6 linked regions of the Homo sapiens genome follow. The protein of the gene in region 5 interacts with the protein of the main gene of each other region in a pairwise test. Each region holds a gene or a part of one and is shown on either strand. Other genes may lie near its edges. The genes, in order: GPR135, ABL2, PAK6, EIF3J, TPD52L1 and PBX3.

Evidence for each region.
Region 1: the proteins of TPD52L1 (region 5) and GPR135 interact in a two-hybrid assay, tested with the Homo sapiens proteins (one large-scale study listed by BioGRID and IntAct).
Region 2: the proteins of TPD52L1 (region 5) and ABL2 interact in a two-hybrid assay, tested with the Homo sapiens proteins (one large-scale study listed by BioGRID and IntAct).
Region 3: the proteins of TPD52L1 (region 5) and PAK6 interact in a two-hybrid assay, tested with the Homo sapiens proteins (one large-scale study listed by BioGRID).
Region 4: the proteins of TPD52L1 (region 5) and EIF3J interact in a two-hybrid assay, tested with the Homo sapiens proteins (one large-scale study listed by BioGRID and IntAct).
Region 6: the proteins of TPD52L1 (region 5) and PBX3 interact in a two-hybrid assay, tested with the Homo sapiens proteins (one large-scale study listed by BioGRID).

Annotation. Positions count from the first base shown.
Region 1 is NC_000014.9:59,462,447-59,467,051, forward strand, and holds the start of GPR135 (G-protein coupled receptor 135), read right to left. Parts: upstream 2,935-4,605; 5' UTR 2,781-2,934; coding exon 1,296-2,780; 3' UTR 1-1,295.
Region 2 is NC_000001.11:179,100,504-179,104,420, forward strand, and holds part of ABL2 (tyrosine-protein kinase ABL2), read right to left. Parts: 3' UTR 1-3,917. UniProt on the Homo sapiens protein: Non-receptor tyrosine-protein kinase that plays an ABL1-overlapping role in key processes linked to cell growth and survival such as cytoskeleton remodeling in response to extracellular stimuli, cell motility and adhesion and receptor endocytosis.
Region 3 is NC_000015.10:40,262,971-40,266,887, reverse strand, and holds part of PAK6 (serine/threonine-protein kinase PAK 6), read right to left. Parts: intron 2,108-3,917; 5' UTR 2,103-2,107; coding exon 1,899-2,102; intron 1,047-1,898; coding exon 393-1,046; intron 1-392. Other genes in the region: BUB1B-PAK6 (serine/threonine-protein kinase PAK 6), read right to left, coding at 393-1,046, 1,899-2,102. UniProt on the Homo sapiens protein: Serine/threonine protein kinase that plays a role in the regulation of gene transcription. The kinase activity is induced by various effectors including AR or MAP2K6/MAPKK6.
Region 4 is NC_000015.10:44,543,647-44,547,563, reverse strand, and holds part of EIF3J (eukaryotic translation initiation factor 3 subunit J), read right to left. Parts: intron 1-3,917. UniProt on the Homo sapiens protein: Component of the eukaryotic translation initiation factor 3 (eIF-3) complex, which is required for several steps in the initiation of protein synthesis.
Region 5 is NC_000006.12:125,261,706-125,265,257, reverse strand, and holds the end of TPD52L1 (tumor protein D53), read right to left. Parts: intron 2,425-3,552; coding exon 2,296-2,424; 3' UTR 851-2,295; downstream 1-850.
Region 6 is NC_000009.12:125,914,462-125,918,378, reverse strand, and holds part of PBX3 (pre-B-cell leukemia transcription factor 3), read right to left. Parts: intron 2,694-3,917; coding exon 2,452-2,693; intron 1-2,451. UniProt on the Homo sapiens protein: Transcriptional activator that binds the sequence 5'-ATCAATCAA-3'.

The sequences.
Region 1 (4,605 bases), on a different chromosome or scaffold from region 5:
ATATTTTCAGTTTGCTTGAAGTTCTTCTCCAACTTTATGCCTGTGTTTTAATACCGTTACATATAGTCCCACACCTATTCTCCCTTTAATAAATACATTATCTTCGACAAGTCATAGCTATAAAGCAACCATCAGCTATTTTAAAAAATACAAAATATACCAAATTTCTAAATGTAGGAGGGTATGATCTATTTGGAAAAGTCTACGCTAATTCCAAGAGGCTGCTTCTCAAAATAGTTTTAGAATTTCTCTTTGGAATCGTTTTCAGTTAGCTAAAAGCCACGTAGGAAACCCAACCTTGTTGTTTTATAGAGGTCTCATTTTAAAAAATAATAAAAATTTAAATAAAGTGGCATCACTCACCTTATTCAATCAACTTGACTTCAAATTACATTTTTGGCTATATCCAAAAATCAAATTTACCTCAAAAGACAAAAATTTTCTACAATGAAAATATTTTTTTAAATGTGAAAGCATTCTGAGAGCAGCATTCCAAAATTTATCAGAAATAAAAGTAACAGGTTAGAGTAAGGATAAAACTTCAAAGTTTTCCAAGGAAGATCATTTTGGAGGTATGACGCGGGTGGAAGGAATGTTAATTTTTACATATAATCTTGGAAAACATTTAAAAGACACATTTCTTTATGTTCATACTTCTATTTGTCCTTCAGATGGTTGAATTTTATCTAATAATAACCAGCTTTTCAAAATCCTAAAATGATTTTAAATGGGTTATGAATTAAAAATTTTCCACAAAGGTTATTAGGGGGTGGGGTGAGGAGGTGCACCAATGTGTGTAAGGATAAGACTTTTCCACTTGCAATCTAAGCACCCAAAGCATGTCAGAGGTGCAAGCTCTAGAAGCTAAAGTTTTGTTGGATGGTAGCGATTTAGAGGGGCTTTCAAGCAGCTCTGAAGGTCTCCATTCATTCCTGAAATTCTGTGTAGTTGAACAATACTGGTTGCATTCAATGTTTTGTTTGTTTCACAGTGTGGTCCTATAATATGAGCTTTTCAGTTATAGTGAATGTTATTTTTGTCATTTTTGGCACTTACAGTTCACAATGCTTGGTTATGTGGTTTAAGATTGTTTTAATTTTTGCATTTTACATTCCTTTTGGCACTTTTGAAGAAGGGACATTGTCTTTTATGTTGTTTGGGGAAAGTGGTAAGCCTCCCCCGTCTCTAGCTTTAAATGTTTGGCTTTATGAAATCCACAACTCTCCCCCAGAATCTTCCATCATTAAATAATGCGAGTGGAAATTTGCCTTCATAAGCTGGCCATTCCAACCGTCTTAGAGGCTGGTATCCCCAGCTTCGGATTTAGGCTGTTTGGTCACTGCCGTCACCGGCTCTGGTGGTCCCTCTCGGCAGAAAAGTACAACTGGATTTTTGCGGGCCCACATGGCCACGTCCCCTGCCACTCCGCTGGCCGGGTTGGAAGAGGACATCCTGTTGCAGGCCCCCAGCCGGTTGGCATAGCGGTTTCGAAGGCGACTGCGGCTTCTGGCTTGCAGACCCGGGCCCTGGCTGGGCAGGAAAGCGTCCACATTCCTAGTCCGGTAGCCCTCCTCGCGGTTGCGCCCTAGGAGCATCGAAATGTTGGGATTGCGGATGGCGTAGATGACAGGGTTGATGGCCCCATTGGCCCAGGTCAGCCAGACGGCCACCACGCTGAGGAGCGAGGGGGCCTGCATGGTCTGGGCCTGCCGGGCGGCGGCCAGCAGCACCAGGAAGCAGTAGGGCCCCCAGCAGCAGATGACGAAGACGATCATGATGAGGACGGTGGTGGCCGTGCGCACCTCGCTGAAGAAGCGCAGCACGCGCGCGTAGGTGTTCACCGGCCGCACGCGCACGTCCGACAGGCGCACCGTCTTGCAGATGTGGTAGTGGCAGAAGCACATGAGCAGGAAGGGCAGCAGGTAGCAGGCCACCACCAGCCCCACGCTGAAGGCCGCGCCCAGCTGCGCGGGGTCCGGGGAGGTCCGGTAGAGGCAGCCGTGGAAGCTCTGCGCCGCCGCGAGTTCCCGGGGCGCCCCGAGCAGCTCCCAGGGCAAGGAGAAGCCCAGGGCCGTCAGCCAGGCGCCCGCCAGCAGCTGCAGCGCGCGGCGGCGGCCGATCTTCTCCCGCGGCGGCCGCACGATAGCGCAGTAACGGTCCAACGAGATGAGCGCCACGCTGAGCGTGGACACGATGCCGAAGCACGAGCTGAAGAAGCGGCTGGCGGCGCAGAAGCCGCGCCAGGGCCCCGCGGCGGCGGCAGGCGCCGAACCCCCGGGCGGAGTGAAGAGGTCCAGGAAGGCGGCGGGCAGGCAGAGCAGCGCCGTGAGCAGATCCGATAGGGACAGCGACAGGATGAAGGCGTTGGTGACGGTGCGGAGCTGCCGGTGCTTCACAATCACCCCCATCACCGCGCAGTTGCCAAGGCTAGACAGCAGGAAGATGAGCAGGAGGACGAGCGCCTGGGCCGCCACTGCAGCTCCGTGCGACAGCAGCGGCGCCGCCTCCGGGCCTAGCGGCCGCCTCACCGCCGCCCCCGCCTCCCGCGCTGCCCCGGACCCGCCAAGGCCGCCGCCACCGGGAGCGGCAGCTGTGCCGCCTCCGCTTGCGTCGCTCAGGTTCCCCAGCGCCGCGGTCGCCACGGTGCTGAAGGAGAGCACGGCCGCCGTGGCCGCGGAGGAAGTCCCGCCAGGTGGGCCGGCCGCGGAGGGGGCGCCGGAGTGCTGGCTGCCCAGTAAGGCCATGCTCGCTGGTGGGCGGGGCGGCTGCGGCTCCTCCATGGGGCCCAGTGGCGGCCGCGGATCTCCTCATCCCGCACCGGGGGCGGCGGCCGCTAGGTCGGAGTGGTGGCTCGGGGCCGGGGGCTAGCGGCCGCCGCGGGGAGCTGGGCTCGGCCGGAGGGGTGGCGGTCGCTGGGGACCTGGCGGAGCCTTTGACGTGGGTTCCAGCGTTGCCGAGGGAACCGCGTGTTTACGCAGGAGCGCGGGGCGGGACGGCAGCCCAGTACCCGCTGCAAAGCCGACCCGCGACACCGCCACTCCGGAGGTTACCGGCCCGGGTGTTCGGGTTTCCGAGAGTGCCAGGTCGACCTCCTGAGGGACCAATGTCCGGCCAGATAAAGTGCCGACTGGCATGCAAACAAATGACCAGATTCAACGAAAGTTCACTCTTGCTCTCTTTTGTAGGGTACAAATGTTCTACAGGCAGGCCTTTTGGGGAGTGGTGGGGGGGGCACTCTGCTTCCTGTGGGTGCTTTTGGTATATACAGGTAGGAAAGGAATCTAGAAAGTGAAGTGAAAGAAAAATCCAGAAGTCTACATCCAGACATCTTAAACTTGAGAAGCAGACTAATTTAAACCAGTAATTCTCAAACTTGAGCTAACAGAATTCACATAGAGGGCGTGTTAAAATACAAGTGACGAGGTCTGAACCCCAGCGTTTCGAATATGTCTGGGGAAGTACCCAAGAATTTGTATCTCTAACGGGTTCGCGGGTGGTGATGATGATGCTGGTCCCAGGACCACACTTACAGAAGCACTGATGTCAAGAGTTTCATAAAATGCAGATTCCCAGGCTGACAGAATTACTAAGGATGGGCCCATGACTCTAAACCCCGTAGGTGATTCTGATACAGGTGCTCTGAGGAGCTAGGATAGTTCCTTTAGATGTTACTTCATTTCCAAGGGCCTGGACCTCAGGCCCCTACTGGCTGATAAATGGGGGGAGAGGGATTGGTGCCTTGCCCTGCTAGCAGCCTTCATCTGTTCTCAGGAATGGGGTATGTTTTGAGTCTAAGGTGCTGCCAGCCTGGCAATCACCACAGATGCAGCTCCAGGTACCTGGCTGGGAGATACGGGGAAAAGAAAGGCAGGGCTACCCAGGGAAGTTGCATCTCAAGTTTCTGGGCATGGCCTCTAATGGGGAAAAGTGTGATAAACCCTCAGGTTAACTAACCCTGGGCTCTTCGCTAAAGCAGTGGTTCACAGAGTATGGACATTGGACCAGCAGCATCAACATCCCCTGGAAACCTTGAGAAATACAAATTATCAGGCCTACAGTGCATAGGATACCCCTGATCTACTGAAACTCCTGTGGTGGGGCCCAGGCACCTATGTTTTAACAAGCCCTCCCAGTGATTCTGATGCACAAATTTGAGAAACACTGCTCTAAAGAATGACTAGTATATTTGTAGATCTTAGAATCAATGGTATTAGTATTGGAGTGCTTATTTCATTCAGAAAAAATATCCTACAGGAAATTTACAGTATAAATAGAAGAACGTTTAAGGTGGCAAACCAAAACTGGGTTTGTCAGCCTAAGCGTCATGGACTTTTGGGCCAGATAATTCTTTATTGCAGGGGCCATCTATACATTGTATGATGTTCAGCAGCATCCCTAGTTCCTACCTACGAGATGCCAGTAGCACCTCTCCCAGCTGTGACAACTAAAACTGTCTTCAGATATTGCCAAATATCCTCTTGGGAGCAGTCAATGCCAGCTTAATCTAGACTGATTTTGTCTTAATTTTGTCAATCAAAGCAAAAATATAATTATCATACATTAATTTATTTGGCAAACACAATCTTCTCAGATTGTGCTTAGTTT
Region 2 (3,917 bases), on a different chromosome or scaffold from region 5:
TAAAGTTTATGGTGCCTAATTCCGAAGCAAATTTAAGCAAGTTCTGACTACACAAACTCCTTATGTTTCCTTTCATAAAGCCTGCTAGCATTCGACAGTTTGCCTCCAGCTTTTCTAAAAGGTTACTTAGCATGCTCGGAGACCTCAGCTTCTGAGGGTTCAGCTCAGTAGCCTGGAGTGACAGGTAGGACCCTGAAAATTTGCTGATGCGAGTACAGTGATGAACAAAGAACCTTCCAGAATAGACACAGATGACATGTATCACAATTCTGCTCCAAATATGGTGTGGTCTGAGGACAGTGCTGTGCCTGGCCTTTCCCCTTCAACACGCCAGCTGCTCCCTCAGAGTGAACAGGGCTTTGCTACTCTGCTCAGGTCAAAAGGTAAGATTTTTGTAGGAGAGGTAAACAATTTCAAAGTTAGAGATGTACATGGGGATGAAGAAGTAAGTGCACTTGGAGGGAAGGGTCCGGCGAGACCTCGCCAGGTGGGCTTGAGAAACGCAGCAACTGCCAAGTGAACACTCTCAGGAAACCACTTCAAGTGGCGGATTCTCACAGATGGAGGATCTGGCCACTGCCATCTGAGAAGCTCGTGTCTACCAGCTCTAGTTCAATAATCATGCAAAATCAACCCAGCTGACAAGTCTTTTCCTCTCTGAGACTCATGAAACCCATCTTTGAAGGCACAAATCTCCAAGGGTGGCCTCTCAGCAGTTTCTGCCATTCCAAGTCAGCTTTGAATCATGACCTGCCACAGGCCTCCTTACCTGGGAAGAAGTATGGGATCTTCTTATCTTGATCCCACAGGGTGAAGCCTTCCCTAATTTCCTGTCCTTTGGATCTAGGATATTGAGTCAGAAATGAAGGTATCCTTTTTTTTTTTTTTCTTCTTAACGTGTCTCACTCTGTCACTTAGGCTGGAGTGCAGCGGCGCGATCTCAGCTCACTGCAACCTCCGCCTCCTGGGTTCAAGCAATTCTGCCTCAGCCTCGGGAGTAGCTGGGATTACAGGCATGTACTACGCCCGGCTAATTTTTATATTTTTAGTAGAGACGGGGTTTCACCATGTTGGCCAGGCTGGTCTCAAACTCCTGACCTCAAGTGATCCGCCCATCTTGGTCTCCCAAAGTGCTGGGATTACAGGCACGAGCCACTGTGCCCAGCCAAAAGGTATCATCTTGTACATACTCAAGATAGAATACATACCTCAGAGAGGTGGCATGAAAAGCAGAAATTCATCCGTCTGCACATTGCAATAAACTTCCCAAGAGACAGGCTGGACTGAGTCATGGGGGTGAGTGCTCCAGAGTAGGCTGTAGCTTGTCCCACAGCCCTGAATCCCACCCATGCTTCTCAGTAAGAGAGGAGCGTAGGGAATGACAGTGAAGTTCAAGTGAACTACAGTTGTGCTGAACAGAGCAAGTAACAATAACTATTACTACTGGCTTGCTGGAAAAAAGAAAAAAAAAGCAAGCTTTGCATTAGAATTTCTTTTTTTTTTTTTTTTTTTTTTTTTTTTTTTTTTTGAGACGGAGTCTCACTGTCACCCAGGCTGGAGTGCAGTGGCGCGATCTGGGCTCACTGCAAGCTCCGCCTCCTGGGTTCACGCCATTCTCCTGCCTCAGCCTCCCCAGTAGCTGGGACTACAGGCGCCCGCCACCACGCCCAGCTAAGTTTTTGTATTTTTAGTAGAGGTGGGGTTTCACCGTGTTAGCCAGGATGGTCTCAATCTCCTGACCTCGTGATCCACCCGCCTCAGCCCCCCAAAGTGCTGGGATTACAGGCGTGAGCCACCGCACCCGGCCAGAATTTCTTTAAGTCTAGTAGTTGGAAAACCAGAACTCTATCCAAATGATATAGATATCTTGACTGTTAAGAGTTGGAGACGTTTCAGAAGTTCTCACATACTCCTACGGATCCCAGACTGAAGCAGGAATTTACAAAGGAAGTGAGCTACTACTGGCTTGATACAAGCTAAGACAGAGACACAAACCGCTGAAGCCTATCAATACTTAAGCCAGAGACCCACCTACAAAAAGAGGATTGGTCATAGCAGATCCTTAGGGCACAGAGATGAACCCCAAATCCAGGTGGAACAATTTAATGCAAGATGATGAAACTCAAAAATCAAGAACAAAAATATAGATAACCCTGTCAACCCAATATGAACTCCTGGTAGGGGCACAGCCTGATAACAAGAATGACATCAGTAGCAAAATGGAAGGGAGCAGAAGGGGTCATAATGAAATGTAGCTATAATTCAGAAGTGGCCACCAAGGCAATTTACTTTTGAGTATTTTATAATAGGTGAATTAAATTCAGCTATTCTTTTTAGAAAAAGAAAAAAAAGATGACAAATGTCAATGTCATTTATAACTGGTAGGAAATCCTAGAAAAGTAATTCCCAAAGTGCACTGGTTTTATGGCCATCCACCTCCCCCTGTAAACCTAACAAAACTATGCAGGACATAGGTTAAAAAAGACACTGTCAACATCAACAGATAACAAGTCTGTTCCCACCACATTTAGGATAAATGGCCAAGCATATAGTGGATAAATGGAGAAGAGTAAGAGGACCTCATCCTTCTTGAGTCAAGGTCCTTGGAAGAGCTTCTGTGTTCTGGAGTGAGTACACATTCTTACTTTTTAAAGATCGGAATTAAACCAAAAAGTTGGTCCCTAGTTTCCTGAAGTAATTCAGCTCTGAACTACAACTTTAGCAAACACTTGCTATACCTGCTCATACCTGTTAAGCAGTTTCATATTTCTAAATGTGATAAATGACAGAGGTGATTCTTACGTATCTACATTTTCAGGTACCCCACAGGGTCCATCCACATTGAATCAACTGTCTTATCTTTTAAACAGACAATACTACAACCTTATAGTTATATTACAGTTGATATTTTCTCAAAGTGCTGTCATATACATTATCTCATAGTCATTAAAATAATGTGAACAATAAAGTTTTTTTAAAGAAAAGGGAATGTAGGACTAACTAGGTTTTTTAAAAACTCAAGTTGGTATTTCTTTACTACAAAGTGCACATTGCTGTGTTGCTGAGGTCTGTCCAAAAGAATGACCCCATTGAATTTTTTAAATGACTGAATTCTACTGAGTGCTTGCTTGGCTTGTGTTCCCATTACTCCACATTCAAGCCCCTTAAGGTCAAAGTGTCAGGAGCATGTGCTTTAGAAAGTGTGCAGCACCACACAGGCTGATTGTCGGTCTGAGCCACTTTTTTGCAGTGTCTCACATGGCAGCAGGTATGGTGGAAAGACCCCACAACCATAAAGTCAAGAGACTTGAATTCTAGCCTTGGCTCCGCCACTAATTAACCGTTCTGAGACAATAGGCAAGTAATTTAACCATCTTCTGCTAGTTTCTTAATCTATAAACCAAAGGGTTGGGGTACTGATAGTTTTCAGATAGCACTGGGTGTTTCAAACACCTGGCGAGATTACTGGAGAATACACTGGCCGAGACCCCAGCCCACTGGGAATTCTGATCTGGAGTGGGGCTATTCCGTCAGTTTTTTTTGTTTGTTTTGTTTTGTTTTTTAACCCTAGGGGATTCTGCTGTGCATCCCTAGACTAGGTGTTAATAATAGTAGTAGTAGAACATTTATAGAGTGTGCTCATTGTGTGCCAGGCACTTGAGCTAAGTATCTTACAAATATCATCTCATTTAATCCTTACAACAACCCTGAGGTAGTTACTATTATTATCCCTGTTTTACAGTGAGGAAACTGAGGCTCCCAAGGTTAAATGACTTGCCTTTTAGACTGGCATTAGAGCCTAAACACTAAACCACTATCTATACTGCATCCTTTAAACTCAAAATCTCCATGACTTTAGTTAAATAAAAATGGGCAGTGCCTTAGCAAAGTCAGCATGCTTTATTACCTGGGACATA
Region 3 (3,917 bases), on a different chromosome or scaffold from region 5:
GCCAAGAAATGTCACCACGGGGGCTCCCTTCACCCTTTCCTTTCTCACAAGAAAAATGTGCGTCTGAAGCAGTCACACATGCCACAAGTCGGCCTCCTGCTGCCCCTGGACTAGGCAAATCCAGCTTTTCCTATGGCCACACACTTGGGAACAAATACTGACAGAAATGGGAAACAACACAACAGCCACAGAGAAAAGAAGGAAAGGAAGGGAGGGAAGGAGGAGGCGAGCCACCCTCCTTAGAGAAGAGGTTACCGTGCACATTTCTGCCGCCTTAGGCGGAAGCAGTCCAGGGAGCCTCTTTGCCAGTCCTCCAAGGGGAAGGCTAGGCAAGGCCTGTGTCCCTACACCCACTCCCCAGTGGACACCTGCAGGCCAGGCTCCTGACTTACCTTGCTCTGTGGTGGAGGGCCTGGCTTGCTGCTGCTTGGAGGGGCTGTGGCAGCAGTGGACAGGAACATGCTTCGGAATAGCCTGCGCTTCAGGCTGCTCTCCCGGGTCTTAGGGCTAGGGCTGCCTTCCCCACCTGGCCTGCCTGTGGCTGAGCCCACCAGGCAGGACTGTGGCCGGGCCTCCTCAGAGCCATGCTTGGCAGCCTTCATTCCATGCCTATTGGTGCCCGTGGGGGGCGAGGCTCCTGGTGGGGAGCTCTGCAGGCAGGCACCCAGCTGCAGACAGCGCTGCGAGGCACCCTGAAACTCGGCGGGGCCCAGGGACTGTGCCTTTGCAGCCAGCCCATTGGGCAGGACCCGTGGGCTCTGTGGCTCGGGCCACGGCATCTGCTTGTGGCCTGCTGGTGTGCCCCCGTTGCAGCTGAGGTAGAGGCCGTGGGGGTCAGTGCGCTCAGACTGGGGGCTCTGGAGGTACATGTCTGGGTCGGTGGCCCAGTGCTCATCCCCCAGCAGCCCCAGGGACTGTGCCCGCCGCCGGCTGGTGGGGCTGCGGCCACGCAGGGTGTTGGAGCTGATGACTGACAACTTCTGGATGTCGTTGAGCAGCCCCGAGATGTAGCCATCCACAGGCATCGCGCTGCCCCGCACCACTGTCTGTAGGGGGAAGAGAAAAGAGTGTGTGGGAGCTGCCCAATTGTGGCAGGGAGGGGTGGCTGGGAGATCAGGGTCAGAGAATGTCCCTGGGGGCCCTGGGGAGGACCACCTAAGGACCTTCCCTGCTGTGTCATCCACCCATTAATTTTTCCATAATTTATCAGGGCCCACCGTGGGTCCCGCCTGTGCTGGATGCAGGGATGCGGGGAGAAGGCCCAGCGTCAGCAGAGCAGATGGTGAGTGCCATGGGGCTGCATCCAGCATGCCCAGGGGTGTGGTCGGCTGGGCCAGGGAGCTGGAGCTCAGGGGGCGGGGCTCCATTCTCTAGCTCCACGGGTGGCTGGGAGAGATGTGCCCAGCCCTCTGAGGAAGAGACACCAGGCCGGGGGCTCCTCCACACACACTGGCTTCGCAGCCTCCAAACCCTGATAGGGCCCCTGACCCCACCTTCTACCAGGCTCTTGGGTCTACTAGTCGTGACCCTCACAACTAAAATTCTCCTGGTCTGGGAGAGCCCTCAGTCCCTATGGGGCTGCAGGTCCAAATATTGAATGGGACACGTCCTAAAAGACTATTCGTTGTCATCTGAAATACAAATGCAATTGAGCATCTCACATTTTCATGTGCTGAATCTGGCAACCCCACCACCCTGCAGAGAGGGTCTCCCCAGCCTCCTTCGCCCTGGCTTACCCAGGGAGAGAATGGCAGGCTGACAGGCAGGGAGTTAAAACAGCTGATTAACTGATAGCTGTGAAGTAGGTGGTTCCTCCAGGGGCCTTTCTGAGGTTTAGCCAGGCATGGTTGTCTGAGTACTGGGAGAGGCTGAACCTCATCCCTGCCGGCCCCTCTTACCTTCATGGGCTGGAGCTGCACCCGTGTGATTCGCGAAGGGTCCACCACGGGCTTGGGGCGCCGCAGTGTGTCCAGGATGTTCTGCCATTGTGGGGGGAGGCCCACAAACTTGCCTTCTTTGGGGTCGAAGGAGGTGTGGACACGGTGCTGGAAGTTCTGTGGCGCTGAGATCTCAGGGCGTTTCTTCTTTTTCTTGCGGAACATGGTGCCTGTAAGTGCAGAGTAAGGTTGAGCTCCCTCCCGGGAAAGAGGGGTGGCTGCAGCAGGGCCTGGGGCACCAGGTTCAGGGCTCCCTCCCCTCCCCCAGCACAGCTCCCCTAGAAGCCTAGGGCTTCCCTCCACCTCCATCTCTGCTTCCTCAGGGAAATGGCTGGCTCCCAGCAGAACAGTCCCAGAAACAACAAACGTGCCATAAATAAGCCAGTGCAGACTATAAACAAGGAAAAGAGGTGTCTTCTTGCCTGTGCCAAGTCCCCTATGGAGCAGGCAGACTCTGGGGGTGTGTTTTTATAAAATCCAAAGCCCATTACAAGTATCATTCCACTGTCTGTCAACGAATTTTAAAAATGGGGAAAGAGGGAGGAAAGTTAGCAAGCTTGTTTTATGAAACGAGTATGACCTTGATTCTTAAAACCAGATAAGGAGAGTGCAAGAAAAGGAAAATTTGACTCAATATCATTTAGGAACGTAACTATGAAAATCTTAAAACTATCGAATTGAATCCAACAGTATATTAAAGTTATTTTTTTGTTGGCTTTTTTTTTTTATTACAACTCAGCTTTGTCCCAGGATGGTTGAACCTGTTAATATGATACGTTAATAAAAAGCCAACCAGCTGATCACAGACATGCTGCCCGGTGTGGGACTATTATGTATCAGGGAGCCCCCAAAGGGCCTTCATGGTTACCATGTGCTTTACCTCAATTCCAGAAAGGCCCTGAGCCAAGAGGATAGCCTGGGGTGGGTGAGGGGCAGCTAACTTAGGGGTAAAGCTCTCCAGAGAAGGCAGAGAGCACCACCTCCCCTTGACACTCTTCTCTCTGGTATTGGAGCTCTATGTAAAACATCACCTGGGCCGGGCATGGTGGTTCATGCCTGTAATCCTAGTACTCTGGGAGGCCGAGGCGGGTGGATCACCTGAGGTCAGGAGTTTGAGACCAGCTTGGCCAACATGGTGAAAACCTGTCTTGACTAAAAATACAAAGAAATTAGCCGGGCCTGGTGGCACGTGCCTGTAGTCCCGGATACCCATGGGGTTGAGGGAGGAGAATCGCTTGAACCCAGGAGGCTGAGGCTGCAGTGAGCTGAGATTGCCCCACTGCACTCCAGCCTGGGCAACAGAATGAGACTCTGTCTCAAAAAACAAACAATAAAACACTTAACCTGCAATCAAGCCTGTGTCCCGTGCCTTGCTGATTCTGGCTTTGCCTAAGGTCGTGCTGAGCTGCATACACAGAAGTGACACAGGCTTGCAATGGATAGCATGGGTAGATCTGAGAGTGGGGAACTGGGGGCCTGGGAAGGGGAGGGACACTTCCAAAGGGTTGCTCTAGTTTCGCCTTCAGGGGATCCCGGACCTGGGATCACATGTTGATGGCAGACAGGGCCAGGGCTGCCTCTTGAATGCTTTTGGATCTGAAGAGGCTCAGAACAGCTCACTGGGTTCTTATGTATCTGAAAAGGTCACTTCCAGGCTTCAAGAAACTGAAACATGATTCTTGAACTGAAAGCTTGGATTACTCATCCGCCCGAAGATCTGGAGTGCAGGGCCGTCATGTTCTCTTTTGGCTCTTGCTATGGAAACAGCATTTTCCTAGTCATTTTGGCAGGTTCTGAAGGAGGTCGCAGATCTGGGAGGCAGCTGGCAGAAAGGCAGGGACCCTGGACAGCCAGTGGTTCCCCACTAGGAATTCACCATGCGTGACTCAATCAGAGCCCACGTCACATCTCAATGTCAGCCATGCTTCTGGGTCTTGAGGTTCGGGATCCACCGAACACCCCCTAGAGGTAGAGCCACAT
Region 4 (3,917 bases), on a different chromosome or scaffold from region 5:
GCAGGAGAATCACTTGAACCCAGGAGTGGGAGGTTGCAGTGAGCCAAGATTGTGCCACTGCACTCCAGCCCAGGTGACAGTGCGGCGAGACTTCGTCTCAAAAAAAAAAAAAAAAAAAAAAAAGAATCAAGGCCGGCTTACGCCTGTAATCCCAACACTTTGGGAGGCCAAGGCAGGCAGATCACCTGAGGTCGGGAATGCAAGACCAGCCTGACCAACATGGAGAAACCCCGTCTCTACTAAAAATACAAAATTAGCTGGGTGTGGTGGCACATGCCTGTAATCCCAGCTACTCGGGAGGCTGAGGCAGGAAAATTGCTTGAACCCAGGAGACAGAGGCTGTGGTGAGCCGAGATCGCGCCATTGCACTCCAGCCTGGGCAACAAGAATGAAACTCCGTCTCACAAAAAAAAGTCAACAGCTAATCAAGCCTTCATGGATCCCACTCTCTAACTCAGGGCACTTTAATCCCAGCACTTTGGGAGGCCGAGGCAGGCAGATCACTTGAGACCAGGAGTTCCGAGACCAGCCTGGCCAACATGATGAAACCCCGTTTATACTAAAAAATACAAAAATTAGGTGGGCATGGTGGTGCACGCCCGTAATCCTAGCCACTCAGGATGCTGAGGAACAAGAATCATTTGAGCACAGGAGGCGAAGCTGCAGTGAGCCAGGATCGAGCCACTGCACTCCAGCCTAGGCAACAGAGACTCTGTCTCAAAAAAAAAAAAAAAAAAAAAAAAAAAAGATCTATACTCTGTTTTTTCTATGCCTAACTCAATCATTGAGCTAAATATAAACCAATTATCAAACACAATTTTCTAAAAGCTCCACAGAACTTAGAAGGCTCAAGTTTAATAGGGACAGACACAGCCCTATGATTAAAGATGGCTTTAATCATAGGTAGCCTGGCCATTGTCTCAGCAGCCACCAGGCACACTATGACATGCCATTTGAAGCTGAGTGGCAAGATGGCAAAAGCAGGGCAAGAGGCCCTGATGCTACTAAAGAAGCAAAGGCTGACTAGTATGACTAATATGCCACAATATGACACCAAGCTTCTGGTTTCATAACACGACAGATCACAAATTTGTATCAGTCTAGGAATATAAACTAACCAAGCCTTGGTTCTTAATAAAAATCTCTAAGTCCAGTAAAGAAATTAAAAATTCAACATCCTGATTAAGGCTGTCATACAGTCTGCAAGCATAATTAAAGGAACTTTGTATTAAAAAGTAAGTGTATTTTTATATTCATCTTACTTCAGCAATTTAACCCACAGCTCGCAGTTTTAACAGATTGAAAGCAAACCAGCTAGTCATTATTTGAGTAACTGTGATACTAGAGTTAGAAATTAGAGATCAAACGTTTGTATTTCGCCGTTAGTTTGCTAAGTGCTATACATCACAGTACAAAAGGAACCAAAGAGCTAAAAATAAAAGTGAATTACTAGGCATTTTTTGTTGTTTAAATCTTCACAGAACACAGGAAGGCTGGATCTGTGAGTGATAGGGGGCAGTGTTTCAGATAGGAGGACCATTTGCTTACTTCCAGAAGATGCATATTTAAAACCCTTCTGAGAAACAGGTGTAGTAACAAGGTTAATTCTCACAACAGTCCTGTAAGAAGGTAGTGTTATTCCCCCATTTTAAAGAAAAGGAAACCCAGGCCCAGACATAGCCAACCCACAATCTCAGTGAAAAACTAAGGGACCTGCTCTGAATGGACCAAAGTTCTTTAAAGTGTCATAGGTATAAAGTTACAGTTAGAAGAATAAGTTCTGGTGTTCTATTACACAGTACGGTGATTATAGCTAATAACAATGTTATATATTTCAAGATAGTTCCATAAGAAAATTTTGAATGTTAACACCACAAAGAAATGATAAATGTTTAAAGTGATGAAATGGTAATTACAATGTATACATGCATTGAAACATCACAATATACCCCATAAATATGTACATTATTTGCCAATTATAAAAACTAATTTTAAAAAAGTTTTAAATAACTAAACATTTGACTGACCTTTTTATTGAAAATAAAATGATTTACTTTTTTAAAAAGCATGTTTTAAACACTTGCTTACAAAGTTCACGGTTTAGTAGAGTTCAATTCACTGTAATAAAGCAGCTTACAACACATCTTTAGAGTAACATGCTGAGATACATCCTTTAAATGTATACATGTAAACAGCTTCATTTAAGGCTTTAAACACAATGTTAAGGAAGGTCTTTAAAAAGCATGTTTTAAACACTTGCTTACAAAATTCACAGTCTGGTAAACAATTTAATTCGCTGGAATAAAGCAATTCCAATGCAATTCCAATGCAAAATAATAAAAATAAAAATAGTATTATAGTAAATATGACTTCTTCCCTGAGTCCTGAAGTATAAAATAACTAACTGGGAACTAAGTCCCTCTCCTGGGAACTCTGGGAATCTCATAAAGAGAAGGATTATTACACATATTAAGATATGCCCAGCTAGAGGTATACTGGTTACCAAACTTCTCACCTTAAATTGCCTGTAGTGGTTCTCTACTGATCTTTTTTTTTTTTTTGAGATGGAGTCTCACTGTGTCGCCAGGCTGGAGTGCAGTGGCGCAATCTCAGCTCACTGCAACCTCCGCCTCCTAGGTTCAAGCAATTTTCCTGCCTCAGCCTCCTGAGTAGTTGGGACTACAGGTATGCACCACCATGCCTAGCTAATTTTTGTGTTTTTAGTAGAGACCGGGTTTCACCATGTTGGCCAGGATAATCTTGATCTCTTGACCTCGTGATCCACCCACCTCAGCCTCCCAAAGTGCTGGGATTACAGGCGTGCCTGGCCCCTCCCACCTTTTTTTTTTTTTTTTTTTTTAAATGGAGTTTTGCTCTTATTGCCCAGGCTGGAGTGCAATGGCACGATCTCAGCTCACCGCAACCTCTGCCTCCTGGGTTCAAGCGATTCTCCTGCCTCAGCCTCCCAAGTGGCTGGGATTACAGGCATGTGCTACCACGAACTGGCTAATTTTGTATTTTTAGTAGAGATGGGTTTCTCCATGTTGGTCAGGCTGGTCCTGAACTCCCGACCTCAGGTGATCCACCCACCTCAGCCTCCCAAAGTGTTGGGATTACAGGTGTGAGCCACCACGCCTGGCCAGTTTTCTACTAATTTAAGAAACTGGGCCAGATGAGTTGGCTCACGCCTGTAATCCCAACACTTTGGAAGGCCAAGGTGGGTGGAATACCTGAGTTCAGGAGTTCAAGACCAGCCTGGCCAACATGGCAAACCCCTGTTTCTACTAAAAATACAAAAAAAATTAGCAGGGCGTGGTGGTGTGCACCTGTGGTCCCAGCTACTCGGGAGGCTGATGCCCAAGAATCACTTTGAACCCGGGAGGCAGAGGTTGCAGTGAGCCGAGATCACGCCACTGCACTCCAGCCTGGGTGATAGAGAAGGCCTCCGTCTAAAAAAAAAAAAAAGAAAAGAAAAGAAAAGAAAAAAGAAAAAAACTGGTCTGCAAGCCTCTGGTAGTAAGAGGTCAAGAAGGAAGAAGTATGGCTGAAAATAAGGAGCTCCATCTCAATACCTCCAAGGTAAAGAAACAAACTCAACACAGGAGCATTTTTATTTAATGTTGATGCTCTTCAGTTACCCTTCCCAGAAAAACATAACCCCCACCCCACCCATATCACTGCTCCCTCAGTACATTCACACCAACTCTATGTCCACCTCTATCCCTGTCCCTAGTTTCTCCCATCAAAGCATAAACCTTACCCCAGACACACATCAATGCAGACATAATGAAGCTACCTAGACATTCCCTACTCCATCACAGAATGGATTTTAGTAGCAAAAGAAGTGATTCTGGCCAGGCGTGGTGACTCATGCCTGTAATCCCAGCACTTTGGGAGGCCAAGGCAGGCAGATCACG
Region 5 (3,552 bases):
CACCCATGGTGAGGGAGGACCAGGCAGCTCTTAGTGATGCTCCTGAAGCTAAGAGTAGGCTCACTGCCTAAACTAGGTAAGACTGCCCACCTACCAACAAGTGTTTGATTTATCTAATCTGAGTTATTCACACACATTTTATGACAAAAATAAAAAATGCTACTTATGCCATGGCCATTATGAATATCACTTCTAGGTCAGAGTGAATAATGAAAAGCTTTTAGATGAATAGAGATGATGTGCATAAGATTCTTACCAAACTAATGAAATCAGAATTTTGATGAATGGAATAAAATAAATAGCTAAAATGTGTTGGAAGCTTTAAGATATTACCACAAGTTTTCTTGATTGTTTTTCTATCCAATTCTAATATTGTGTTTTCAGATTATAAGGCTGAGACTATGGTGTGCAGAAATTGGTTGGTGAACGGAGATATTTGTTTAAAGTACCATAACTTTATCTAATACAATGCGGTGTGCTGAATATGGTAAAAAAAGAAGGTGGCAGGGAGTTTTCACAAGTTAGCCACTTCACACTCAACAGGCAGCTATAGATTGGGCACAGAGACTGAGTACTTGTGTGCTGTGGTGGGCGAGCCAGCACGGCCTGAGAACCAGCTGGGCAGGGTTGGTTTCCTGCCTCTACTTCAACCAACAGGCTGGAAGCACAAATAAGGGAGAATGCCAGCATCCCTGCTAGTGAGCTTTCTTTGTCTACATTTGTCCACTCTGGTCAAGTTTACAGCCCCATTCTCTCTGCTAAGATTCCAGGCCTCAGAGATGATGTTGTCCTGAACCACCTTGATTTTCAGTTAGGTGTACAGATTGCACAGATTGTCATGCTCCATTAATTTGAGTAGAATTTTTCAGATGTGCTTTACTTCAAAATGTCATATATATCACTTCTATTTAATAAACACAAAACATGAACAATTAGCATGCTAACAAATATGTATATATTATATGGGCTTTTTAAATAGTGATTTTTTTTAGGTTGGATGTCTATTCAGTGTGCATTTTACAAATATATCTTAAGGCTATATCTCTGCCACCTAATAACAAATATATGTTCCCATTTAGAAAAAGAAAAGAGATACATATGATATATAAGATAAAAGTTAGTGCAGAAATCTGAGTGGATTGATAAATACCAGTTATTTTCATACATGTGAACAATTTACAAACTGAAAGGGGTTGCAGAACTCTGCTTCTCCCATTTTCTAGCTATCTCTTTTTTGGATATCCTTTATCTGACTAACTACTACTGTATGTAGATTGGAGAGAATTTTAAAATTGGAGATTATTTTAACATCCTAGGATAGCTGAGGTAATATTTATTTTCATATCCTCTCTCATGTTCACCAAATTAGCAGTAAAAGTTGACTACTTATTATTACTATTTTTGGAGACAGTGTCCCACTCTGTCACCCAGGCTGGAGTAGTGCAGTGGTGCAATCATAGCTCACTGCAGTTTCGAACTCCTAGGCTCATGCAATCCTCCTGCCTCAGCCTCTAGAGTAGCTGGGACTACAGGCAAGCAACACTATGTCTGGCTAATTTTTTTCTTTTTTTGTAGAGACAGGGTCTGTGTTGCCCAGGCTGATCTTTAACTCCTGGCCTCAAGCAATCCTCTCACCTTGGCATCCAAAATAGTTGGGATTACAGGTGTGAGCCGCCGCACCTGGCTAAAAGTTGATTTAAAATTGCATCTGTAAAATCATAACTAGCAACTTTTAAGACAAAGAAATTAAGAATTCAAAGTCATTAAAATCAATTCTTTTAATTGCTGAAATTAACATACATAATTGATGTAGGTGAGAGAGATCACAAGTAGTTGGATGAAATTTATAGTAAATCATCCTATTGCTGGAGACAGTCATGAAGAGCTCCATCCTGTTGATCTGCTGAACTGAAAGGGACTGTTCATTCAGCCTTCAAGGACATGCACATCATAAAGGAGGCCAAGCAAAAATCAAAGCAAACAATAGCTACATGTTTGGAAAAATATACATCGAATTACACAGACAGGAATTATGACCAGTTGTGTACCTGCTCAAGTGGGAACATTTTAAAATGTGACAGTCATCTATGAATACTGAAATGTGATGGTCAAGTGGTCCATCATCAACACAAATACAAATGGAAATCATTAAACTTTCTGGAGGGGCCATTTGAATAACAATGTCAAGGCCTGGGTTTTTCCCAGCGGGATTTTGGTCTTCTTATCTGGATAAGCACAGGCAGAGATGGGCTGGGTAGTGGCCGGTTTCTGGATGCAGCTGCACGCTGGCTGGACTTAGCACTGCAGCTCCTCCTCCTTGGTCCGCCGGGAGCCTCCTGCCAAGCTCTGGGCACTGGCATGGGCCGTGGAGCTGAGGACCTCCTCAAAACTGCCTCCATTAGGGTTCGTACCGCCTACTTTCGTCTGAAATGAGCAGATCCACAAAAATGCAGTTAGTTGTTACTATCATTTTTGTAATGTTTTTATAAGAATACCAAAAGCTGGATTACTTTCAAATTCAGAAATACTTTCTATCTTTAGAGACAAAAGAATGCACAGAAGTTTGTTTCCTTTAGTAGAGTGCTAGAATATTATTCATACTTGGGTTCTCGGATAGGATTCCAAACTTTAATTTTGCACACTTTTAGCAACCCTCTCTTTATCTCTCCTGTATCTAAGATTTTAATCCCTTCAGGAGCATAATCGGATCCATGGACTTGGAACAGCTATCTCCACTCACCCAGAGAACTGATCTAATCAAAATGGAATTAGATTTTTTATTAATTCCTCCAATTGTACAAATGTATAAACATCCTTACATGACCTAAACTTAGATTTTTCTACTTGGGAGTTAGCAGGGCAAACTGGATTTCTGACAAATGTCTTTTGAAAAGTCAGAGTGGCTCAATGGAAAATGATTTCTGGTTTCTGCTTTGAAAATTGAAGATGGATCAAGTCTTAATCACTGGTGATTTCACATCATCTTAGGCAACTGCCTTTTGATATGGTTTGGCTGTGTCCTCACCCAAATCTCATCTTGAATGGTAGTTCCCATAGTCCTCATAATCCTAGCAAGGAGGAACCTGGTAGGAGGTAATTGAATCATGGGGGCGGTGACCTCCATACTGTTCTCGTGATAGTGAGTGAGTTCTCACAAGATCTGATGCTTCTACAAGGGGCTTTCCTCCTTTTGTTCAGCACTTCTCCTTCCTGCCACCATGTGAAGAAGGACATATTTACTTCCCCTTCTGCCATGATTGTAAGTTTCCTGAGGCCCCCTCAGCCCTGTGGAACTGTGAGTCAATTAAATCTCTTTCCTTTATAAATTACCCAGTCTCAGGTATTTCTTCACAGCAGCGTGAAATGGAATTAATACACCCTTACAGTATGAATATTCCTTACAATGCAGTTATGATGGTTTATGAGGCTTTTTTCTTGTGTATTTGTTATTGACTAAGCATAGAAACATGAAGGAATTAACTTACAATTTAAAAATAAGGCTAAGTATTTTGAAAAATTCCTTATTAAAACTGCTAAAAATCCCTTATTAAA
Region 6 (3,917 bases), on a different chromosome or scaffold from region 5:
AAAAAAAAACCCTGGTGATTTGATGCTGGTATAAGCTGGGGCTAAAGTTACATAAAATCTCATGGAAAATTTTGTAGGATATTTCTAAAACAGTGAGACTCAGGACCTTGTCATTGACTGACACCAGCTTCACACAACTTCCACCAGAGTGTATGGAGAAAGTAAGGAGGCAGGTGTAAAGACACATGGCAAGAGGTAGTAAGGAATCACCTTAATTCCTCAGCCAAAAAACTCAGGCCATTTGGCCTCTAATATTATATCTCTTTCCATGCAAGGTGACTGGTAGTGTTTATCTAGTAAGTAGTTATAGTTATTTTAGCATAAAGTTATACAATTAGGATTATACTACAAATAAGAGTCATTTTCTACTGTTTATGCTCAGGGGCAACCTTTTCAACCATGACTTATTTTGTTTACTCTCAATTATTCATATGTCAAATCAGAAAGTGGGATTTTTACATACATACACACGATAATTTTTCCAAAATTCTTATTTGTACATTTTCCACAAGAAGTTATTCTTACAAATGAGACTAGACATACAATTTTAGATCTCAGAAAATCCTATTCCAAAAATAGAAAACACCTTATAATATTAATTTACACTACTTTTTAACTTAAAGCTATACAAATTTTTCTACTCTTCCTCAAAACACACTCACCTCTGGGATAGGATTCAGCATTTGCTTAATACCATTGTATCCAGAATATTAGAAAAGGCAATGTGAAAAAACAACGATATATATAATTGAAACTATACAGGGAATGTAGAGGGGAAAAAATCAGTATTAAAACTGATCAGGGGTTGCCAGGGATCAGTGGGAAGGAAAGAATAAAAGAAGAGAGGGATGAATAGCACAGAGGATCTTTAGGGCAGTGAAAATACTCTGCATGACCCTATAATGATGGGTACATGCCATCATAAATTTATCCAAATCCATAGAGTGCACAATACCAAGAGTGAACCCTAATGTAAACTATGGATTTTGGGTGATAATGATGTGTCAATGTAGGTTAATCAATTTTAACAAATGAACCCCTCTGGTGGGGGATGCTGATAATGGGAGAGACTATGCATGTGTGGGGACAGGAGGTATATGTGATATCTCTCTTCTTTCCTCTCAAATTGGTCTGTGAACTTAAAACTCCTCTTTAAAAGAGTCTTTAAAATACACACAAACACACACAAAACTCACCAGGACTCCCATTTCACACTAAAGTGTGTGGACTTTAAAAAGTACTTGCCTACATAGTGAAATACTCATGGGTGAAATTATAGGATGTCTAAGACTTGCTTTAAAATACTCTTACCAAATTGGGGCTGGGTACACAAAATAAGAGTGGCAAAATGTTGATAACTGTTTATCTGGGTAAAAAGTATCTAGCTGATTCTGATTCCTTATTTGGGGTTGAACTCTATGAAATTACCATATTCAACTGTTTTTGGCCTCAAAACTTAGCAATTTCATAGGGTTCAATCTAATACTATTCTCATTATTTTTGTGTACATGTATTATAAAATGTTTCATAATACGTTTTTAAAATTACCTTCCAAATGACAAATCTTATCAAATGAGAATTCCTCAAACTTGGCAGCTTTTCAGCATTAAACTAACAACTAAAATATATGTAAAAAGACCCACCAATATTTTACTTTATTACATTAAATCTAAGACTCTCTTGTTTTTCTCCACATTTTAACATCTCTGAAATGTGAAAGCATTTTATAATCAGTAATATTTTATAGTTAAACTAGCAGTATTAATTTTTTCTTGGTGTTACATAAAGATGCAACTTAAAGTTATCTGAGATTCAGTATGGTTAATATAATTGCTGAGAACCAGATTTTTAACCCATATTCTCTTTCTAATAAGGAATTTAGCACATAATGCCTTGCCTAGCATTCCCTGTCCTGGGGTACCCATAATTATCTTGGGAGGTCTCATACTCAGAGAAACAGGCCGGAACCTGCTTACTTGGTGAAGTTCCCTATAGTCTGGCACAATCCATAAGAATTAATTCCCAGGAGGATTCTGGAGCTCACAGCATAGGAGGGAAAAGCTCACTGTGCAATGCTTCCCTTCAAAAGTGATTAAAGCTTATGAACAAGGCTAGTGCATAAATGTTAATTATACAGAGCTTTGAAGAGCACCAAGTGGTGAGGTGAGAGGGAAGAATGACTGCAGGTGTGGTAATAAGGGCACGTGAATGTGCGGAATGAATAAAACTAAAACAAGTAGATGGGATAAAATAGGTAGCGCTCCTCCTCCAAAATCTCAAAGGGTCTTCCTTTCATGAATCCAACAATTCACTTGGATTTTTGCACTGACCTTATTTATTTTGTAATTTGTGTTAACACCTACCCCTCACAGCCCTCAGAATTGGTTAGCATGGTCTAATAGAAGAGCAACAGAGGGTTTGTGTAGGACTATGAGAGTGGCGGCTGCTGACCTGTTCATATTTCTCCAGTTCTGTGTGATAGATTTGTCTGATCTGGGTCAATTTGGCTCTGTAATCTGAGTGTTCAATAGAGTTATCTGAAGAACCTCCAGAGGCTGCCGCGGCTGCAGCTGCTGCCGCCGATCCCCCACCTTTCTCAGGACCTGAAACCCCTTCTGCCAAAAGCATATTGTCCAGTCTCATTAGCTGGGGATCGGGAGGGTCCTCCTCCTGGGCTCCTCTGATGCTGAGACCTTCAAGGAAAGAGAGAGAGAGACAGAGAGAGAAGAAGCGAGAAACAGAGGACAAATAGTGTGAGTATTTTGTTTATTCGAGAAAATGATCAAACAACATCAGTGTACTACAATTCATGCTGAGAACTTCATTGTTCACATTTGATCGGTAAGTTTGAATAAGTATGAAAATTATTTTTAAGATAGTGTTTACATGCACCCTAGAATTTTAAATACCCCCCCACCGCCTCAATTTACCACAGACTAGATCCTTAGAAAAAGGTAACCCTGGCTTCCTGGAATATTTTAATCATTCAAGCTTCCCAGATTTAGATAATTTAAGCATAAAATGGGAAGAGGGTAAAAAATTGAATGTTTTAAGAAAGAAAGAAAATAATTACAGGGATATAAAACAACTCATCCAAAGGTGGTTATTCTGTCTCTCTCTGTACAGTTGGAGAAACAGAATTAAAATTCCCATAAAATAGTTAATTCACAAGCTGTAATCAAAAATTGAAAAATAAACAACATTAGATGAGCTTTTCCATCGTGTGATTTCAGAAGAGGAATACACACATTATGAGGTAACTGGCTATACTTAAATATATATATATTATTAAATGAATATTGTTAAGCAATTGCCAGCAAACTATAAAACGAGGATACTAAATACAGTATTAAAAATGTGCCATTGACATGGCAATACAGTGCTGGGCACAGTAGTCTCAATCTAATTTTGCTTTTAAATCAAGAACTTCCTAAGTGATGCCCAGTCAGCAACCTCTTCTGAGTACTATAGATCATAGCTGACAATTCATAGGTTTAATCAGGTCACACAGGCTTTCTGCCAAAATGTTTTCAACAACACAGAAGACAAAGTTTTAAAATAATTATCATGGTATAAAAAGCATTGGAGTCATGACAGCTCAAAATCAGCATTTTCATTAATGTGTAACATAATCTAAAACATCCCAGCCCAATTAACCTCTGTAAATCTGCTTCAAAGCAGGTTCCCTACACTAGTTACAAGGCTTCTTGGGGAAGAGGGGAAAAGGAAGTTGGCACCTTGCTTGTTTGTATTTGGATTCTCTTTTGAGTCTGTGCCTGTTGTTGTTTATCCACAGTGGTACACACTTTGTGTCTAGTGTAACTTACATGACATAACATCTATAAGCTGCCAAGTACTCAACTGATCACCAACTCTGATTTTATATGCTAACCTAAAGCTACCGTCAATTCTTTTAA